2 linked regions of the Homo sapiens genome follow. The protein of the gene in region 1 interacts with the protein of each later gene in a pairwise test. Each region holds a gene or a part of one and is shown in the gene's direction. Other genes may lie near its edges.

Region 1 (3,622 bases):
CTGAGGCAGGAGAATTGTTTGAGCCTGGGAAGCAGAGGTTGCAGAGAGCCAAGATTGCACCACTACCCTCCAGCCTGGGCAACAGAGTGGGACTCTGTCTCAAAAAAAAAAAAAAAAAAAAAAATTAAAAAAGCAAATTATAAGCAAGTCAACAAAATATATGTCTAATTGATGTTTATAAACTTACTCTGTCATGTTTTGTTAATCATCTCATGGGTAGTGTTCAGATTTTTACAAAGAGAATTGGTGAAATATTTTTATGAAATAATGTACAAAAATGAATTTAAAAAATCATACAAATATTTTTGTTTTACTTCTTGTTAAATGTAATCTTAAATTTAACTTTCAGTCTGAAGACCTGATTTTGTGTCAGTTGACGGTCCCAAACTTTTCAAACCAGACTGCCTATCTGTATAACGAAAGTGCTGTCTATGTGTGCTCCACAGGAACTGGGAAATTTTCTCTTCCCCAGGAGAAAATTGTCTTTAATGCACAAGGTACAGTAGCAGTTTTAGAAAGCATGATTGGTGAGCTCATTAGTCATTCTGAGTGCTTTTTTTCTCTTTCCCTGAATGTCACTTCAAGCATGCTGCTTTCAAATGTTTCTGAGACATTTCATACCACAACTACAGCAGCTGAAGCCATAACCCTACTAAGAAACCAAAAGGGTACTAGAATTTCCAAACTATTATATTTACAGACAAAGATAGTAACATTTGTTCCAGGAGAAGATGCCAAGAAGCAAAAAACTATTGCCAAGAGAAGTAATTGCTTATTCCTAGTTAGTAAAAGTGACATATTCTGAGTTGATGCTTTAACTTTTCCACACCCCTAGATAAGAAGAGCTTCAGGTGCTGGACTTATGCAGGGGGGCTGGTCAGGATTGAAGAAGAACCAAGCAGATACTTAGCTGAAGGGGTTGGGCAGAGGACAGAGTGCAGGTAGGCAACAGCATGGAACCCAGGTTTTCTAGTCCCAGCACAAGAACCTTGACAGAGGGTGGGTAGGATGTTACTAAGGTGCCAGGTAGGCTTAGACCTTTTTTTTTTTTTTTTTTTTCCAGTCCCCATTGACTGATGTGGTAAGTTAAAGTCAGAATTAAGAGAACTCCACAGGATTGAAAAAGCTCTTCTTCTGAGTTTTGCAGAAGGAATAATTTTCTTTTTTGGCTTACTAGACTGACTGCTGTCTGGCAAGGCTAGTTTTTATTGTCCTTAAAGCTGAAAGACACAGAGCCTGCTTCTTCAGATAGCAACCGGTTCTTAGCATTTGATTCTGGGATGTAAAGGATGAGTTCGAAGTAGGACTAATGTTGTAAAGGAAAAAATGTGCTTAATATATCATCAAGATGATTTTCTGCTTAGGGTGGTAGCTTTTACATAGCATTTTGTTGTTATTGTTAGATGTATTTGACTCTGTTTTCCTTTCTTTTAGGAGATAGTGTTTTAGGTGCTGGTGCCTGTGGTGGTGTTCCTATCATTTTTTCTAGAAACAGTGGACTGGTGTCTATTACTTCAAGGGAAAATGTGTCTATATTGGCAGAAGACTTGGAAGGGTCTTTAGCATCTTCAGTTGCTGGACCAAACAGTGAGGTAATGTGATTCGATAAGAATTTGAAGTTTTTATGTTATTTATTTTTTAGAGATAGTGTCTCACGCTGTCACCCAGGCTAGAGTGCAGTGGCACAGTCGTAGTTCATTGCAGCCCCAAACTCCTGGCCTCAAGCAATCCTCCTGCCTCAGACTTCCCAGTAGGTGCCTGGCTAATTTTTTGTTTTTTGGTTTGGTTTGGTTTTTGAGACAGAGTCTCACTCTGTTGCCCAGGCTAGAGTGCAGTGGCATAATCATAGCTCACTGCAGCCTCACCTCAACCTCCCGGGATCAAGCAGTCCTCCCCTCTTAACTTCCTAAATAGCTGGGACTACAGACATGCGCCATCTCACCTGGCTAATTTTTTATTTTTTGTAGAGACAGGATCTCCTTATGTTGCCTAGGCTGGTCTCAAACTCCTGGGCTCAAGAATCCTCCCGCCTCGGCCTCCCAAAGTGCTGGGATTACTGGCGTGGAGCCACCATGCCCAGCCTAATTTTTAGTTTTATCAGATTATTTTATACAAATGGTCTCAAAACTGAGACAGTTTTCAAAGACGTAATGATGCAGACATTAGTTCTTTTTATCTTCCTCATCCCTTCTGTCCTCTTTGCCTGGAGCAACTACATTTAAGCCTTTTAGTGATTTATTCTGGTATTTTTCTCCATATATCTAAGTAATGTACATATATTCCTGTCTCCTGATGCATCTGTTGATTTTCTACTACAGAAAATGAGGTTTTGGGTTACCTTATACTCCTTCCTCTGCCTTTATCATTCTAACATAAATTTTTTTCATTGTAATGACAATGTAAATATTGTTTATGGTTTGCTGATCCCAAATACTGATTACATGTCCTTTATTATAGAACTTTGTGTGACTCTTGGAGTGTATAATGACCTCGTTTTGTATTTTCTCACTTTCCTTTCATATGTGACTTAATCTTTTTACACACTCCAGGAGTTCTGTAGAGTGCCCCTCAATGTAGTTTTTCCCAAAGTCAAGTCTCCAGAAACCTTCCATCTGCACAGCTGTCATCCCAGAACTTCCCTTTTCTATTGTCCTCAAATCCTCAGGACCTGTCCTCTGCACCATGCATAGGTGGCCTCATCTCCTGTCAGCGGGGCCATTTCCCATTCCTTCTGCTTTCTATCTTCCTTTGTTGTAGTTAGTATCACAGATATTTCCAAGGAGCTTGTATTTCTGTTTCTTTTTATTCTGGGATGATTTTTTGAGAGGAATAGCCAGGTAAAAATTACCAATTTTATTCTGTTGTCTTGAAACCTGAAATATCCTATCCATAAGATTTTTATCATTCTTTTACAGAAGACTAAAAATAATTAATACTGTTTGGGGTAATTTCCATTTGAATAGTGTATGAAATATATAGACTACCTCTGTAATTCAAATTAAAGTGATTAAGTGTAGTTTTAAAGGAAAGAAACAATTTTTAACTTTTTTTTCTTTTCACAAAAGGGATTAATACCTTGCATTTTGTATTTTGTAATTATACAAAATTATACAAAGTACAAAATACCTTGTATTTTGTAATTAATACGATTACAAAAAAGGATTAATATCTATTTTGTAATTGTATGGTTATTATAATACTGTTATACATTCTGAAGCAATTTTATAGTATTCCATTTCTTTAAAATTTTTCTAAACCGTTGTTTAAATTTGTAATCAACCATTATGCTTAGGTAGTATACACTGTGATGAGTCGTGTAAGAGCAAACCTATAAAAAGATTCTGTTAATTATGATGAAATGTCCAAATTATTTTACTTACAACATAATCCCTGAATTACCTGTACCTTTTCTGTATGACTTTGGTTGATCATTTGATGCTATTTATAGTGTTTCAATAAGTATATGAATAATTGGTATGGACCAAGCTTGTCCAACCCACAACCCATGGGCTGCATGCGGCCCAGGATGGCTTTGAATGCAGCCCAACACAAATTCGTAAACTTGCTTGAAACATAAATTTTTTTTTTTTTAACTCATCAGCTATCATTAATGTTAGTGTAT
Region 2 (3,622 bases), on another chromosome or scaffold:
GGTAGGGTTTTTTTTCTTCCAAATTATCCATCTTGGCACATTTGGTTGTTTTTCTGTTTATTACCTCAGATTTTACTAGTTGTGGACTGAAACAGTTGAATTTATTTTGTACTATTTTAATTTTCTCTATTTTGTTTTCAAGATACAACAGGGTTTTGTTGTGTCACCTGGGCTGGAGTACAGTGTGATCATGGCTCACTGCAGCCTCTACCTCTTGGGCTCAAGTGATCCTCTGCCTCAGTCTTCCTAGTAGCTGAGACTACAGGTCACCATGCCACCACGCCCAGCTAATTTTTTTTTCTTTGTAGAGATGGGAGTCTCATTTTGTTGCCTAGGCTGGTCTCGCACTCCTGGCCTCAAGCGATCCTGTTGCATTTTGGCATTTTTATTTTTGAAATGTTAGCTATTTTAGATTTTCATTGATTTTTGAGATCTTGAAGATGTTGAATCCCGGAAAAAAATTAATAGTTTTCATGAAAAATTTTCTTCATATTTAAAATGTCAAGCTTTTTATCCCTTTTTCTTTGTCCAAAGTGACCAAATTCCTATCAGTAGCTCCCTTATTGTGAACCTTGCAGATGCTTGGCCGTCACTTTTGTGTCCACAGCATGGATTCAGCTGAATAATAGTTCTGTAGGCTGAGCTGAGCCGTAGCATCCAAGGCACAGATGGAGCTGGAGAGTGACATAGCTTGTCCTTGGCTTGATTTTCCTGAGTTCCATCAGCTATTGGATAGGATGTGAATCTTTTTCTTTTCCTGATACAGTGATACAGTCTCCTTCCAGTAGAAGGATAAAACTGGAATCTTGACATTTGATTTGCTTTCTTTTTTTTTTTTTTTTTTTGAGACGGAGTCTCGCTCTGTCCAGGCTGGAATGCAGTGGTGTGATCTCGGCTCACTGCCACCTCCGCCTCCCGGTTTGAAGCAATTCTCCTGCCTCAGTCTCCTGAGTAGCTGGGAATGAAGGCATGTGCCACCACGCCCAGCTAATTTTTGTATTTTTAGTAGAGACAGGGTTTTGCTATGTTGGCCAGCCTGGTCTCGAATTCCTGACCTCGTGATCTGCCTGCCTTGGCCTCCCAAAGTGCTGGGATTATAGGCAAGAGCCACCATGCCCGGCCACAGAAAATTTTTTTAGAGTAGATTCACTTTTGGAGATGATCATAATAGATGTTAAATTTTTTTTTTCTGTTTGGTTTCAGAAAAATCAGAGATGGTGCCAAGTTGCCCCTTTATCTATATCATCCGTAAGGATGTAGATGTTTACTCTCAAATCTTGAGAAAACTCTTCAATGAATCCCATGGAATCTTTCTGGGCCTCCAGAGAATTGACGAAGAGTTGACTGGAAAATCCAGAAAATCTCAGTAAGTTGGTTGCTGTTTGGTGTTGAAGCCCACACTACACTGTGGAAAGCCAAATGAAGTACATTGTTGTCTTTTTGTGTGTTTTATGGGTTGCGTAAAGAAATAAGAGACTCCTGGTTCTAGTTGAGGCATGAGTACTGGACAGTGTACATTAGCAGTGATGGGAAGACTTAGCGGGAATATGCAAATGCTATTGATGGGCTGGCTTGACAAGCTTTATTTATATTCATATTTTACTTAGCCTCTAAAGAAGAAAATTTAGGCCACACAAGCATGTGAGAGTCGTTGAATGAGGTCACATTGTTGGGAGATTTGAAAATTAATATAAACCTAACAGTTTTGTCTCTAAAAAATTATGGTTCAGACGTTATTTGACAACAGACCAGAAAACTCTCGTACTATTTATAGATTAGGATTTTCTTGAATTGTAGTTCATAACTTCATCATTATCAGAGTGGTACTTGTTAATTGTAGACTTTTGGGACCCACCTCAGATCATCAAAATCAAAATCTCCGTGGTTGGATCTTAAAATCTCCAGCACACTGAAGTTTAAGAACTCCTGTGTTAGATTTTTGTCAGCGTCCCTTCACATGGATGGCTAGGGAATGGGCAGTGTTGGTATGTTACTTCTTTGATAAGCTTTTCACAAATGAATCATTCTGGACAAGACTCAGGTCAGCTTCTGTGTGAGTGTGTGCAAGAGTGATTATTGGTTGTTTTTCTGTTTTTTTTCGAGGCAGAGTTTCGCTCTGTCACCCAGGCTGGAGTGCAGTGACGCGTTCTCCGCTCACTGTAAGCTCTGCCTCCTGGATTCACGCCATTCTCCTGCCTCAGCCTCCCGAGTAGCTGGGACTACAGGCGCCTGCCACCACATCCGGCTAATTTTTTGTATTTTTAGTAGAGACGGGGTTTCACCGTGTTAGCCAGGATGGTCTCGATCTCGTGACCTCGTGATCCACCTGCTTCGGCCTCCCAAAGTGCTGGGATTACAGACGTGAGCCACTGTGCCTGGCCCTGTTTTTTTTTTTTTTTTTGAGACAGAGTTTCACTCTGTCACCCAGGCTGGAGTGCAGTGGCGCAATCTTGGCCCACTGCAGCCTCTGCCTCCTGGGTTGAAGCCATTCTCCTGCCTCAGCCTCCTGAGTAGCTGGGATTACAGGTGCGTGCCACCACGCCTGGCTAATTTTTGCATTTTTAGTAGAGATGGGGTTTCATCATTTTGGCTGGGCTGGTCTTGAACTCCTGACCTCAAGTGATCTGCCCACCTCAGCGTCCCAAAGTGCTGGGATTATAGGAGTGAGCCACTGCACCTGGCCTGATTATTGGATTTAAGGGACTCTAGTGGAGAATATTGGTGAGTTTGAGAAATCTATTGTCACTTCTAGGAAAAAAACATGTCAAAAGTCCTGTAATTCCTTGCTGGCAGGGGACCCTGTCTTATTCTTTTTTTTTTTTTTTCAGATGGAGTCTCACTCTGTCGCCCAGGCTGGAGTGCAATGGCATGATCTTGGCTCACTGCAACCTCCGCCTGCCGGGTTCAAGAGATTCTCCTGCCTCAGCCTCCTGAGTAGCTGGGATTTTTGTATTTTTAGTAGAGACAGGGTTTCACCAGGTTGGCCAGGCTGGTCTCAAACACCTGACCTCAGGTGATCTGCCCACTTTCACCTCCCAAAGTGCTGGGATTACACGCCTGAGCCACCGGGCCTGGCCAGTAAATACATTTATGTATCTTTTTTATTTTTTTGAGACAAGGTCTGACCAGTAGATTTCATCTGCAACAATTAATGGCAGTATGGGTTTGTGGATATTAACTTTAGCCCATGGGTTGTTTTGTGGCGTTTTATTTTGTTGTCCAAGTTGTTCCAGCTTCAGAAGGTTAGGAGCTCCTTCACAACGGCTCTCCTCTTTCTTTCAGCAAATTTCTGCATTTATTTGAGTGTTTCCTTCCTTTGTGGCACTACAAGATGTTCCAGGCTCATCTTGTGTGTTATTTCATTTTTTGTAGATTGGTTCGAGTGAGTAAAAACTACCGATCAGTCATCAGAGCATGTATGGAGGAAATGCACCAGGTTGCAAGTAAGGACTGTGTGCGCGTGCGCGCGTGTGTGTGTGTGTGTGTGTGTGGGTATTTTGAGTATTTATCTATGCATAAATACTGTGAGGTAAAGTTTGATTGATATTCCAGTCCAAAACTTATTTTTCCATCTTTCATAATCCTTACTTTTTTGGTAATCATTTAGAGGTTTTTTTTTTTG

The links. The genes of interacting proteins can lie anywhere in the genome.
Region 2: the proteins of NUP133 (region 1) and NUP85 interact in binary tests that used the Homo sapiens proteins (3 or more experiments, as listed by UniProt).

Annotation. Positions count from the first base shown.
Region 1 is NC_000001.11:229,484,341-229,487,962, reverse strand, and holds part of NUP133 (nuclear pore complex protein Nup133), read left to right. Parts: intron 1-349; coding exon 350-497; intron 498-1,434; coding exon 1,435-1,592; intron 1,593-3,622. UniProt on the Homo sapiens protein: Involved in poly(A)+ RNA transport. Involved in nephrogenesis.
Region 2 is NC_000017.11:75,208,620-75,212,241, forward strand, and holds part of NUP85 (nuclear pore complex protein Nup85), read left to right. Parts: coding exon 1-1; intron 2-1,203; coding exon 1,204-1,366; intron 1,367-3,372; coding exon 3,373-3,443; intron 3,444-3,622. UniProt on the Homo sapiens protein: Essential component of the nuclear pore complex (NPC) that seems to be required for NPC assembly and maintenance. As part of the NPC Nup107-160 subcomplex plays a role in RNA export and in tethering NUP96/Nup98 and NUP153 to the nucleus.